Homo sapiens: one gene and its partner. The protein of the gene in region 2 binds, or shares a complex with, the protein of the main gene of each other region. Each region holds a gene or a part of one and is shown on either strand. Other genes may lie near its edges.

Region 1 (7,024 bases), on a different chromosome or scaffold from region 2:
CTCTATTAAAAAAACAAAAAAACACAGATTCTTCTAGAAAATGTGGTGTCCCCACTGGCATCGATTGAATCTGAATTCTTACTAATACCACAAAGTGTCTCCCAAATTCCTTTTGAAGTCAATCCTGTGTTAAGGTTATCATGTAAACAAATTATTATTGCTGTCAAAATCCTGGGCCCGTGCCCAGAGGCAAAGGAAGCAAAGTACTGGCATGGAAGATATCTACAAGAGAGAAAGAGAAAGACCAAGGTGGCTAAAGATGAGACATTCCCATTGTCTACACTAAGAAGATCCCAAACCCTCTCAATCTTCCCCAGGCACTGATACTCACCTGACTGAGGTTGAAGGTCATGATGCTGTTGTCATCATACAGCAGGATGTTGATGGTATCTAATGCCCATGTGCTCTCTGCCAGGAGACCAGACTTGAGGGACATCATTACCCGCCATGCCTCCGGGGTTCCTGAAATAAACCTCCATGTCGTCTATCCACCAAGCCCAGGTTGGCTGGAGGCACCCCTAGGGCTGCCCCATCAGTGAAGCTACTCTGAAGATAACACAAGGTGGAAGGCAGTTTCTGTCTGGGAGATGAAACACACCAGCCCCTCATGGCTTCTAAGCTGTCTGTCTAGGACTTCATTGCATGGCAATGAAGGAGAACCTTTAGTTAGCTTATTTCTTCCTTTTCCAAAGTTCTTTGGTTCTATTTTAGTCAACACTGGACCAGATTCAACCTCATCCAGAATAGTAAGGTGGAGGGAACAATGGACAAGATGGAAAGGGGCAGATTAGGCAACCGAATGAGGAAGATCTCCTTACCAATGTCTTTCATTGTGAGCCGCCTCCTCTGCTTCAACACAGGCTGTGTGGCTTCAACAGAGCCAGGTGGGAAGGTGATATCCCGCCGAATCATGGGGGGCTGCACAGGGGCAGGTGCTATGTGCGAGGCAGGTACTGGGGGACCTGCCTTCTGCATTTTCATCCCAGAGTGCAGGAATGGAGACTTGCTAGGAGAGGTGCGGTTCTCCATTGGCCGGGGCAGGGGAGCAGGGCTGGATACCTGAGGAATGTGATTCTGCATGCTTGGTGGGGGCTGGTAGTTAGATGGAGGGGGCCTTGTCATGGGGGGCACAGGGGCAGAGGGACCATATGGGGGCTGGCGTGTGCCATGGGAAGGCCACGAGCCTTCGTGGTTGGCCCTCTGATCTGTGTGCAGCATTTCATCTGTTCGGTTCACGCCATGATAGGCGGGGCCCTGGGGGGCAGAGCCCGTGCTCTGCCTGTTGGCATAATTATAGGTCATGTCATTACGCCCCTGCCACATGGTGCCTTGCTGAGCAACCTCAGCTGATGCCTGTATGGGGCCGCCCATCATTTGTGGTGGCATGTTTTGCTGGGCATTGGTGCCAGGGGGTGCAGAGACACGGTCTCGGCCAAACTGGAATGGAAATTGGTTCTGGGGGCCGCCTGCTGGTCGGCGCTCAGTAGCAGCTGTGGCAGTGGCAGGATAGGCATTGCCATACTGGTTGTATACATCTTGCTGAGGGGAAGGCTGGGCAGCTTGTTGCTGGCTGGCAGGCTGGGGCTGGGCTGGGGGCAACTGCTGCTGCTGAGGCTGCCCCTGCCCAGTGCTGTATGGCACGCTGTACATCTCCCCTTCGTGCCGCTTGGCAGGAGGGCCATATGTGCCATCCATTGGCCGCTTGTAATTCTAAGGCAGAGACAAGCAGAGGGGAAGTTAATACTCTGCACTCAGGGACATAAAGCCCACAGATGCCAAGATGGCTACAACCAGATGCTTGGTGGACACAGACTCCAAGAAAACATGGGAATCACCTTAACAAATTGTCTTTTGAAGTTGTTTCCAAAAGCAACCACCACTCTTTCTTCCCTTCCCTTGCTTAAGTAGAAAAATATACAAAACCTAAAAATCAAAATAAGGTCTATTTCTAGCCCCTTCCAACTCCAAATAGAGAAGAGATTGAGGACGTGGCTCTTCAGGCAGGACTGGCCAGTCAGGTGAGAGAAGAATGCCAAAATATCTAAAGTGAGCTTCTTAGACTTCAACACGTTAGATTAGTTTACTAACTAGTTTTCAAGGCGAACCTGCATGCCAGTCCATTCCCAGCTACCCTCCTCACCTGCTGTTGCTGTTGATACATTGTAGTCTGCTGGCTGGGGAAGGGGCTGCCAGAAGGGGTGCCTTGGGTGGAGAACTGATTGCCATAGGAATCATGTCTATAGGAGGCAAAGAAACACAGGATTAGGGTGGGCAGTGGCGAAGCCTGATCCATAGCAGCACCGAGACCAGGCTTTACTCACCGTTGCTGCTGCTGCTGCTGCTGCTGCGGGGGGTAGCGGCTAGGAGAATACATCCCCGAGTCTGGGTTGGAAGGCATGAGATTCGGCTGTGGGGCCCCAGTGCTCATGTTTCCCTCAGGCCCTATTCCAGGCTCCGTCCTAAACAAAATTGGAGAGGCAGATTGAGCCCACTATAGCTTCAGGGTGCTGGGGGAGTGGACAGGAGCTGGGGTCATGCTTACCTCACTCTGTCATAAGGACCTCCATAGGGATAGTGCTGTCGTGGTCCCATCGCCACATTTCCTAGCCCAGGGCCGGCAGCACGACTGTAGGGGTCACCCATCCCGCCGTTGGGGCCCTGCCCTGAGGACATGAAGGGATCACTCCCTGGAGCTGAGCGTAGAAAGGCAAGCGGTGAACAAACTGGTAAGTTGACAAGCCTGGTAATCTACCCTTTGACCCAGGCCCTCTTCAGAGTTCAGGTTTGATCTCATTGTTTTCCAGACAAGTTCAAAACAGAGATCTAAAGAGGCCCCAACCAGCGAAAAGCATGTACTTATTAAGGGATGACAAGGTGAAGCCAAGGAGAAGACAAGAAAGGAGGTAAGGATGAAGAGGGGTAGTTAGGGCAGGAAATGCATTATCTCAGAGGATGGCTCCACAAGAACCCTGAGCCATTCTCAAGATTTCCCCCCATTTCACTGGCCCTGTCTTTACGAGCACAAGTTCAAATAGCAATCAGATCAGTCACCTTTCCTCATGCTGCCATAAGGATCCTTATTTGGCTCATAGGACATGCGCCCCATCATGTCAGAGGTATTCATACTGGGCTGATACCCAGGGTTTGGAGTCATGGAATTCCGCTTCTGGAATGTGGAGTCACTTCCATCATTAAAGGCATCCTGGATCCCAACTGAATTGCTCCTGCTCCAGAGTGAGGAAAACCAAGTAAACCACAAATAAACCAATTCCTCCAATATAACAAAGGACACGCAGGAGTCACTGGCTGGGAAGGCAGAGGCAAGGACCACCTTGGGCTGCAAGGAGTTCCCATGCACTTATCTTCAGCCATCCTCCCAACCATCTGCCCCTGCTCTTGGCCTTACCTCATGCCTGGCAATGGGGGGATCTGACTGTGTGGTGTGGATGCTGGAGTTGGTGGCTTTAAGTCTCCTCCTTCTGCCATGGAACTGCTGGTTGACTGGGGAGTCTGGGGCCCCTGCATAGATCCTGATCCCGCTGTGGACAGAGATACAAGTTGAGTAGTTTGCTTGGCATGACAGTGTTTAACTCTCACACAAACACACGAACGACCCAGAATCTCTTTGGGAAAGTTCTTCCTAAGGCCTTTAAAGCCTGATCACCCTTCTTAGCAGAGGATCTACAAGGCCAGGTCATAAAGACGGGAATCTGAGGGTTTTGTAGCTCTTTGTTTTTGTTTTACGTGTAGAAAAGAGGAGTGATGTGGCCATGACATCACCATGCTGGTGATTCCCTGAGTCATTGCCAGCTTCCCTGGCTATTTCTCTTCACTCCGCCAAAGGACCTTGTCTAACCTACTAAACCCTGTAATGCTGGTGCATGAGCTCCAGTCAGAGCCTCCCAAGTCCTGGGTGGGAAGGGGGTCCCAAATCTGGGATGCATTTTAGGAGTCTAGGAGCTCCTGTTCTAAAGCATCCAGCATGGTGTCACTCCTCAACTTCAAATGTTCTTCTAAGCTGATGAGTACAAAACTACTAGTAATTAATGTTTCCAATAGTTACCATTCCCAGCAGTAGATATCCCACTGCTGAGGCCTCCCCAGCTGATGAGTCATCTCAGGCACTCATTACACCCTCAGAGGTCAACACCAGGGCACATGTGTTTACACCCACCTTCCAGGCACCCTGGCCTTCTTCCCTCTCTAGGCTCACCCTAGGCCTCAGCCTCCTCTCAGAAAGGAGGGTGAGCAGAGCCACTCCCATCAGGGAGTTCCATTCATAACCCTTCCCCACTCCCTCCTTCCCATTCATTACCATCTCAGCTCCCTGGGGAATTCAGGGCTCTAGTCTGAGCTGCATTCTAAGGTGCTGACATCAATAGGCCAAAGCTCCCAGATGGCCCTGCCTTGCTGCCATTTATAAGTTCCACCGACTCCTCTTGTGCCCCTCCCATTCACCAGTTTACAAACATTTGGCAAGTTGTCAGCTGCACAACAAAAATTAAAACTTAAGAGCTGCCGTAGAGTACCTCCCAAGGGAGTTTCCACTGCCCACTCTCTAGTCAGCCAACCTGTTAAGCCCTGTGGTAGGGCAAGGCAGAGCACAGATCCTTGGCATATCCTGTTGGATAAGCCTCTTATTCATATCCTGAATAAGAGGCCAGGGCAACAGGCCCTCTCAGCCTTGGTGGGGCCGCTGACCCCATCCTTACCAGGAGAGGGAGGCTGGATCTTGGGCTGGGACTTCTTGGAATCAGCAGCTGCAAAGATGTCTGGGGGAGGGTCTTCTCCCCGTTCAATCTTGCATTCAAAGGCATAGAGACACTGGATATACTGCTTTTTCAAGGAGCTGGCAGCACTGCTTGATGTGCCCACATTGAGGTTGGTTGCAAGTTCCCGCCATTTTTTGTTCTTGTTGACCTGTATAACCAAACCAAAGGAGTCGAGGTATATCTCCCGCCTGGTTTTCCTGCCCATAAGCCCCAAGCCCCATCAGGCTGTAAGGTATTCATCTTTGTAGAACCACAGTTCTTAGGTAATTGAAAAAGTTAATCTTGCTTGGTGGATAGTCCACAAGAAGTGTTAAATCTGCAGCTGGCTTCATTTTACCCTCAGGATGTTCCACTGCAACTATCAGACTGTGCTTATTCACAACAGGGCAAATTTCACATTACTACTGGAACAGAATTCAGAGTCCGGTTTTTTAGTACGCTGCTAAAAAGTGGTGTACAAATCATCTGGATATCTAAATCCTATTTTATTTATTTATTTTTGAGACAGAAAAAATAAATCTCGCTCTGTCGCCTAGGCTGGAGTGCAGTGGCGTGATCTTGGCTCGCTGTAACCTCTGCCTCCCGGGCTCAAGCGATTCTCTTATCTCAGCCTCCCGAGTAGCTGGGATTACAGGTGTGCACCACCACGCCTGGCTAATTTTTGTATTTTTAGTAGAGACGGGGTTTCACCATGTTGATCAGGCTGGTCTCAAACTCCTGGCGTCAAGTCATCTACCCGCCTCAGCCTCCCAAAGTGTTGGGATTACAGGCGTGAGCCACCGCGCCTGGCCCTAAATCCTATTTTAGATGCACTAATAAAAACTAACATTTTATAAAATGGAGACTCATGATAATATCAGTGACCACCCTGCTTGACTTGCTTTGTCAAACTTGGGATTTACTCATATTTTTTTCTTGGGGTGGTGGCTCCCTGCAAATTTGACATTCTTGTGCCACTGCTCCCCTACATATCTCATTGACAAATAACCACAGGTCCCTTTCCCTTACCAGTCACTGTCCTGATGGTCCGGGTGTTCAGGGTCTTATTTATTTAGAGACAGAGTCTCACTCTGTCACCCAGGCTCGAGTGTAGTGACGCCATTTCGGCTCACTGCAACCTCCGCCTCCCGTGTTCAAGTGATTCTCCTGCCTTAGCCTCCCAAGTAGTGGGACCACAGGTGCCTGTCACCACACCCCACTGATTTTTATATTTTTAGTAGAGACAAGGTTTGGCCATGTTGGCCAGGCTGGTCTCAAACTCCTGACCTCAGATGATCCGCCCGTCTCGGCCTCCCAAAGTGCTGGGATTACAGGTGTGAGCCACTGCGCCTGGCCCGGGGCCTTATTATGACTTTTGTACCTCCCGAGCAGCCAACCTACAGTTCTGCCTCCTTCCCTCAGCTTCAGGGCACACTGACCAAGCCCATTCCCCAGATGCTCCCTACAATTAGTCTTTCTGCTCTAGCTGGACAGGTCTCCTTCTTCATGTATTCTTATGCTTATTCATCTACCATATGGTAAGCCTGTTCCCCCAAGGCCTGGGAACAAGGGTTTTCAAGTCCCTATACACAAAGGAAGTTCAATAGGTTGTAATGTCTGCTGATATGATACCTATGATACTAGAAAGAAGAGTTTAAAGAGGCACAGAGGGGGACAACCTAGAGGGGCAGAGGTGACTAGGAATACTTCTTAGAGTGGGTAACACCTGAGCTAAGTCTTCATGGTTGGAGATGGCCTTGGTGGGAAATATCTAGACTCTCTCCCATCTCCGTGGCATCTAGGCCAGTCTACTGGATTGGCCACTCTTCCACCTAAACCCTACTAATCCTTTAGATAAGCTCAAGATTCAGCTTTGCTTTCTTGGAGCCTTCACAAACTAACTTATAAATAGCACTCTTTTGCCCCTGAATTATCACTGCCTTTATAAAAGTTCAGTTACAATCACGGCATTTTAAAGGTTTGCATCCTTTTCCAATCTGGAAGACAGGCTCAGGCATTAGAATTCTCTCTGTACCTCATCCTAGGTTCAGTGAACCCTGAAGCCCACCCAATCAGAAGTGAGCGAAACCTAACCCAATGCTCCCTTTCCCTATAGACAGGGAAGGCTTGACTATGAGATCTGAGTATCAGGGAGAATGGCAGGAATATGCATGGAGTCACCTCAAAAGCCTTCCGTGGCTTTGCTTCTCATGCCAGTTATGTGGCAGTATGCACGTGTCTTATTTTGTTTTGTTTTCCTTTGTGGGGGAGGG
Region 2 (7,024 bases):
CTGGTGGTCCCGGCACGGCTGCGGTGGATGGGGACCCACACGGCAGCGAAAGGCACACACACGCACACGCACACGCACGCTCCGTGGGACCAGGGCCCTTGCTGGCCGTCTCAGCCGAGAAGCCGAGGATTGAATGGGCATGGAGACTGAACTACCCCTCTCACCTTTAGAGGTGGCTCCTCCAAGTCGGGGTTGACGCCCGCTGGCGGAGGGGCAGTGTGGGCGAAGCTGGCACTGCCGCTGCCCGTGCTGCAGTGTCTGCTCTGTGGATAAATAGAGGACTTCAGTCTCCAGGGCTGTCAATCCGGCGTCTTTCACCAGCAGTTTAGAAAAAAAAACCACTTCAAAGAAAAAGCAAGTACTCATCCTCTTTCCGTTCAGCCCACACTCCCTTTACTCCAAAGGGATGCAAAAAAAATAAGAGTGCAAAAAAGGTAAAAAAACAAAAATGAAAGCCGCTCACGCGTCCACCATTCACGCTGGGGAGGGGTCGGGGCCGGTGCTGGGCTCACCTCATCCTGCTCCTCGTGCTCCAGGATGGCCTGCAGGAAGGCGCGCCGCTCATGGCTGGAGGACTTCTGGTCGAACATGCCGGCCTGGATCACCTTCTGGTCCACGTTGAGCTTGTACTTGGCTGCAGCTAGGATCTTCTCCTCCACGCTGTTGACGGTGCAGAGGCGGAGCACACGCACCTCGTTCTGCTGCCCGATGCGGTGGGCTCGGTCCTGCGCTTGCAGGTCCTGGGGGAAGAGGTGCCAGTCAGTCCCAAAGGAGCCCAGGAGGTCATAAAAGGGAAGGTGGCCTCTGACACTAGCTGGAGAGGTGTGCTGTGCGTGCCACCCTCGGCCTGACAATTCTGCCCAGCCTGACCTGCCGCCGCATGAAAACAGAGCTGGTGGAGCCTGGGCCGCCATGTGTCCCTCGGGGGAAGGGGACTCTCATCACGTTCCTCCAGAAGTGCCACCTTCTACCTTATTGGGACCCCACAGATATTCGGGAAGAAAGCACCAACCCCCCAGGGGATTATATTCTCAAGCAGCTCCCGTGGCAGCGGCACAGCTCCCCACAGCGTGGACCTACACAGTCGAGCACCATTTACAACAGGGGGCCGAAGCTCGGCCGTGTTGTGGCAGTGCTTGGTTTGGCTGTGGGCCCTGCCACTCTCACAGTGCACACAGAACCGGAACCAGGTCTCACCTCTGTGAGCCTCAAAACTCCCTCAGCCTACATGGGGCCCAACCCGTGGCTACTGCATACCTCGAATGAGTGAATAAGCACCAGGAGTGTGGCCCAGTGACTGGTGCAGTTAGCTCCCAACAATGCAGGTGCCGTGGATGGGCTTTTTTTCTTTTTTTTTTTTTTTGAGACAAAGTCTCGCTCTGTCGCCCAGGCTGGAGTGCAGTGGTGCGATCTCAGCTCACTGCAACCTCTGCCTCCCGAAGTTCAAGCGATTTTTCTGCCTCAGCTTCCTGAGTAGCTGGGGCTACAGGCATGCACCACCATGCCTGGCTAATTTTTGTATTTTTAGTAGAGACAGGGTTTCGCCATGTTGGCCAGGCTGGTCTCGAACTCCTGACCTCAGTTGATCCACCCACCTCGGCCTCCCAAAATGTTGGGATTTCGGGTGTGAGCCACTGCGTCCAGCCTGGGTTGTTAGTTTTATCATCACCCCAGCACAGTACGAGGAGGCTAACACGAAATCCTGTCTCTGGGCCCAGGAGCTGCAGGACCAGGGTGAGTACCAGTGATGCTCTGAAACTTAAGACTGGCACCCATGGGGTGGCAGAGGCCACAGCTGGTGGGGACCAGGAGTGCCTTGTGTCTGCCGCTCAGCCCTCCTGCCCTGTCAGCACACTTCCTGGCAGGGCCAGCCCTCCCCAACGCGCCCCCAGCCCTGAGGTGCAGCTTCCGCCTGCTGCCGGCCTGCCAACGGGGACACACAACTCAACCACCTCCTAAGAAACTGGCTGGTCACCAGGGTCTGGGCAGAAGCTACACCCCAGCCTGATCGTAAAAGGGGCCACCAGTGACCACCACGGCATTCACCCATCAGACAAGCGACAATTTACACACTGAGAACGCTGCTGCCCTCACGCTGCAGGGAAGGGCAGGGTACATTCACACCCCAGCGTAGGAGTGAAACCACTTTGGCAGTAGCAACCAGAACACGAAGAGGACAATGTCTGGGGTGGAGCGACCCCATGTCTGAGGGCTGCGCAGACCTAGGGTGTTTGCACAAGCACTCTGAGAGAAAGAGGGACCCTGCTGGGTTGGTGACCAGGCTGATCAACAGAAAAGACGGATGCCTGCCAACCAGAGTTTGAGAGCAGACGTCCAGGGGTGGCCATCTGCCGGGACGCCTGGTGGCCGATTAGATGGCTGGGTAGCTTCCGATGTGCACTCGGCGGTTGACACCCACTGCTTGGTGGAAGAGGCACATGCTAGGCCACGCCGCATCTGTGTTAATCTCAGTACATACATGTGCGAAGGCAGATGGGCTGGCAGAGGCTCAGAAGAGAGCACGGTTGGAGAGGAAGGGAAAAGGGACTCCTGACTGTCACTGGTGTTTACATGTTAAAAACAATAAGAACTTATCAGTCTTATAATGAAACACAGAGAAAAGTTTAACTCATTTTCAAATTCTTGTAGCTATGTAACAGCATGACCTGGTATCCACCGATGCCGAGGCCCATGAGGGGTACATGGTTATGGAACAAGAGGAGGAAGTAAACGAAGTGGCATGGAGTTTACCCCCAATTGTGTCTGAACAAGCGCCAGTGTGTGTGCTCACAGGGCACACTGCAGGGGCCGCCCCACAGTGACGGCGCAGATTGATCAGGATACTTTCCACCTCCTCATGGGTGCCATTCCAAGATTTAAGAAAAACCAAACCGACGGATGGCTTATACACTGCTTTCCCAATCAGAGGGAAAGGCTGTTTGTATTTTGGGAAACAGGAGGACCCCGCCTCTTTTCTCCCTGATGACCTATGGAGATATGGGTGCAGCTCCTCCCGGCTCCTGGGGTCCAAGACAATGTGGAGGAGGCTGGAGGACCCTCAAGCCAGGGCCGTCTCCTCGAGGTTTTGCAGGCACCCCCTTCCTTCTCCTCGACCTGGGGCCCGGCCCGCTTTTACCTGGTGAGGATTCCAGTCGCTGTCAAAAATGATCACAGTGTCTGCCGACTGGAGGTTCAGGCCGAGCCCCCCAGCCCGGGTGCTGAGCAGGAAGATGAAGTACTCAGAGCCGGGCTCGTTGAAGGTTTTCAGCAGCATGCCCCGGTCCTCCGCCTTCGTGGTTCCTGACGGGCACAGAGGAGAACAGGGTCAGCGGGGTGACCTCAGGGGTAGAGTGGGGACACCAAGGAACACCTGCTTCTGAGAGCAGGAGCAGGATCAGCACCTGCCAGCATCCCCAGATCCCTGGCTCCGCACTCTCCACACGGGCCTGTGGGCCACTGGCGAATAACTGGATTTCCAGTGTTTCACCACAAAACGTCTCTCCACACATCCCAGAAATGAAAACAGGCCCCGCTGGGAGAACTAGAGGAGGTGGGCCTGGAGCACAGAGTCCAGCACCCAGCCCACAGCTAGGCCACAGCGTCCAGCGTCAGCACAGCCACCACCACCACAGCCCTGGATTCTCTCCTCTACTCTACCCTGTGCCATTCCATGGGGAGCGGAAGACACAGCGGCCAATGCCGGCAACACCGCCGCTCGCAACACAAGGGACCTGGGGGTGGGTGGACAGTGACTGTGGGTGCACCTGCCTTCAGCCCTGTCTCAAAAAGTTTTGTGGTTCACAAAGAGAATCTTCTACGGTAAAAGCATGGAGACCTTATAAAGGGGGCTCGTGTCCTTTCTGGCAGGATCAGTGTCCCCATGCCCCAGAAAACCCAAGTCAAGGAGCCAGAGCAGGTCTCCTGGGTGACAACCCACGATGCCCTCAGCGTTGTGGGCATTAAGGCAATGTCAACACTCCCTGCGCTGCTGGGAGTTCGGACAGAGGTGCCCCTGAACACTGAAGTCATTTTGGTGATGAAATAAAAACTGGCAGGCCGGGCGCGGTGACTCATGCCTGTAATCCCAACACTTTGGGAGGCTGAGGTGGGTGGATCGCCTGAGGACAGGAGTTCGAGACCAGCCTGGCCAACATGGTGAAACCCCGTCTCTACTAAAAATACAAGAAAATTAGCTGGGCGTAGTGGCGGGCGCCTGTAATCCCAGATACCAGGGAGGATGAGGCAGGAGAATCGCTTGAATCCAGGCGGCGGAGGTTGCAGTGAGCTGAGATCATGCCACTGCACTCCAGCCTGGGCAACAAGAGTGAAACTCCGTCTCAAAAAAAAGAAGAAATAAAAACTGGCCATTTCCTGCCACCAGCCTACACATGCCCAGGCACGGTGCAGAAGCCCACAGTAGCCTGGCCATCCACCTGCCGTCCCACCCTCTCTCAGGCACCAGATGTGCCCCTGCTACTCCAGCTCGGAGGAGGGGCTGAGGTGAGGGGCCACCCGGCTCCCAGATGCCAGCCCACCCATGGGAGATGCAGTCTCAGGAGACTTCACTGAGCTCCTACCCTTCCTCTACTCGCAATGGATTCTCTGGCCCTGTGGCCATGACCACATCACATGCAGAGGACACATCTGTAGTTCAACTGACCAAAGTCCTTGTCCTTATGGAGTAGGCAGAAGGGCACTGGGATGGGTGGGAACCAGGCTCTCTCCTGGGGGAGTCAGGGACACGACACAGACGGGATGGCCCTCAGGAAGCCTTGGCCCTCTCGAGGACGGGAGAAGCCGCTGGAGAGACCGTAGGAGAGGAAAGGGTGGGGGGTGGCCCGGCCATGAGGACCCTGAAGGATTTTGGTTTTCAGCCTCAAAGCTGAAAGTGGGAAGCCCCCAAGGAAGAAGGCAAGCCGGGGAGACCCCTGCAACAGACTCGTGTCTGTAGAGTGGTCCTGGACAGAACCCCGGGGAGGACCTGCAGTTTGGAGGGACACACAGGGCACACTCCGGGTGGCACCTGGGCAGGTTGGCCCAGCAAACACAGGTCCAAGTGATCAACGGGACAAGGGGTATGGAGGTCTGGGGTGTCCTGCTGTGAGACAGACCTTGCACAGGAGCTTCAACAAAGGCTCTGGGAGGTCGTGTAGGGAACAACAAACTGGCTGAGCCGTGTCTGTCTCAGCAGCTCATGCTCGTGTTTCTCGTAAGCCCAGTTCTAGTAACTCCCACGAAGAACTCACTCCAGGGCTCCCTGACCCACTGGGACTGACAGACATGTCTCACGTGCCCTGTCGGCATCTCACAGCCTCTCCTCCCTGAGCTCCCGTGTGCTGGGGCAGGCAGGCGCAGAAACACAGGCGGTGACCTTTCCCATCAGGGACCGCAGGGCAGGGGGTTGGGCTGAGAGCCTCTCTACGGCAGCTGCTGCTCCTGCCTGGCAGTGCTTGCTTCCCTCCCTCCGTGCTCACCACAGAGTCTGATTCCAGGTCCAGGCCTGACCTGTGGCAAGGTGGCAGTCACTGGGCTGCTACGAATGGCCCAGGGATGGGCATGCGGCTCACAGCAGCTAAATGAGAGCCAGCCTGGGACCTGCCTTTGTTGGGGACACTGAGCAGGTGGAAAGGAAGCCAAGATGGAAGAAGGCAGAGCAAAGAGCTGGAGAAAAGTCTCTCCAATATCACCTGCATGCCTGGATCCAGCTGTGCCTGAAGGATGTTTAACCTCCTGGGGTTAGAGCTATGTAAGCCTATTGGTGCTTTCTTTCCTGTGTCCACATGGTATGGAATTCTGTCACTTCCAGCTAAAAGTGCACAGGGCACCCCTTCCCCAGTGCGCCCAGCATTGTCGTGGAAAGACTGTCAGCCTAGGAGTCAGGACACCCGGCGTCCAATCCACGGCCTGTCCCAGTGCCGAGTGCCCAAGATGCTCAGCCTGTGGCTAGGCCCACTCTGGCCACTGGACCCAGAGCGCCTGGGCCTCACCCTGCCTCACAGGAGGGAATGCCAGTGAGGAGCTTCTGTGGCAGCCACAACAACAAAACCCTGTAAGAAACGCCTCACTGGCTCATACTCACCATCAAGCCTGAGGTATTTAAAGCCGCGATACGCAAAGTAATCTTCCATGATGGTCATGAGGGAGGTCATTTGGCAGAACAGCAGCACTTTGTGGTTGGTTGCTCGGAGTTTGGGAAGAATTCTATCAAGAAGCTCAAATTTACCCGAGGCTCGGTACAGGTCCAGCCTGGAGTGTGGAGGAGGCAGGAGAGAAGGCGCAGGATGTTAAACCTGGAACCCTGCAGGCAGGTAAGGCAGGAGGTGCATCGCCCGCCTCCAGGCCAGGCGCCGGGTTCAAGGGCACAGACATGCATCCTAAGCAGACGTCACCCACCCAAAGCTTCAGCAAAGCCATTTCCCCCAACTGAAATAAGCCCGGCCACCCTCGCTGGGGAGGCGTATCACCAGGGTGGCACATGTATTTCTCGTCAAACCCAGACACTCATGAAAATGAGAGGAGCTGTGAGTCACATGGCCGGCACAACACGGGGCTGGAACAGGGATGCTCCGGGAAGCCAGACCTTGTCCCCTTGCCCGATAAAGAAGCCCCAGGAGCAAATGCCACACTGGAGACACCCATGCTCTGCTAGACCCAGAAGGAAGGGCCACCTCGGCTTCTCATGTTCTCTCCAGCCAAACCCCAAGTGTTGTAGATGTGGACACTGAGGCTGGCAGGGGGACGACGTGATATGGCTGACCACATGTCCAAGCCAGGCCTCCCAGCCTTGAAGCCAGGTGTACAGGACCCTGTTCCACAACTCAGTATAAAAAAACACATCAAAAAGAATTTGTGATGTTTTCATTAGGCGCCTCTCTTCTTGCAAATGGCTTACTACCCCAGGGGAATTGAATGGAGGCTTTAGCTGGAAGAATGCTTTTAGCAAGGTTCTTTGCAATGGTGAAAATCTAGACACAGCATCCACATCCATTAGGGGCTTAAAGGAGTCTGGGCTGCCCCTTACAAA

The links.
Region 1: SMARCA4 (region 2) and ARID1A share a complex: the UniProt entries of both Homo sapiens proteins name them as parts of the neuron-specific chromatin remodeling complex.

Annotation. Positions count from the first base shown.
Region 1 is NC_000001.11:26,769,015-26,776,038, reverse strand, and holds part of ARID1A (AT-rich interactive domain-containing protein 1A), read right to left. Parts: intron 4,921-7,024; coding exon 4,713-4,920; intron 3,540-4,712; coding exon 3,407-3,539; intron 3,228-3,406; coding exon 3,052-3,227; intron 2,694-3,051; coding exon 2,543-2,693; intron 2,460-2,542; coding exon 2,322-2,459; intron 2,238-2,321; coding exon 2,141-2,237; intron 1,711-2,140; coding exon 819-1,710; intron 463-818; coding exon 332-462; intron 1-331. UniProt on the Homo sapiens protein: Involved in transcriptional activation and repression of select genes by chromatin remodeling (alteration of DNA-nucleosome topology).
Region 2 is NC_000019.10:11,027,006-11,034,029, reverse strand, and holds part of SMARCA4 (SWI/SNF-related matrix-associated actin-dependent regulator of chromatin subfamily A member 4), read right to left. Parts: intron 6,247-7,024; coding exon 6,080-6,246; intron 3,301-6,079; coding exon 3,137-3,300; intron 741-3,136; coding exon 513-740; intron 264-512; coding exon 165-263; intron 1-164. UniProt on the Homo sapiens protein: ATPase involved in transcriptional activation and repression of select genes by chromatin remodeling (alteration of DNA-nucleosome topology).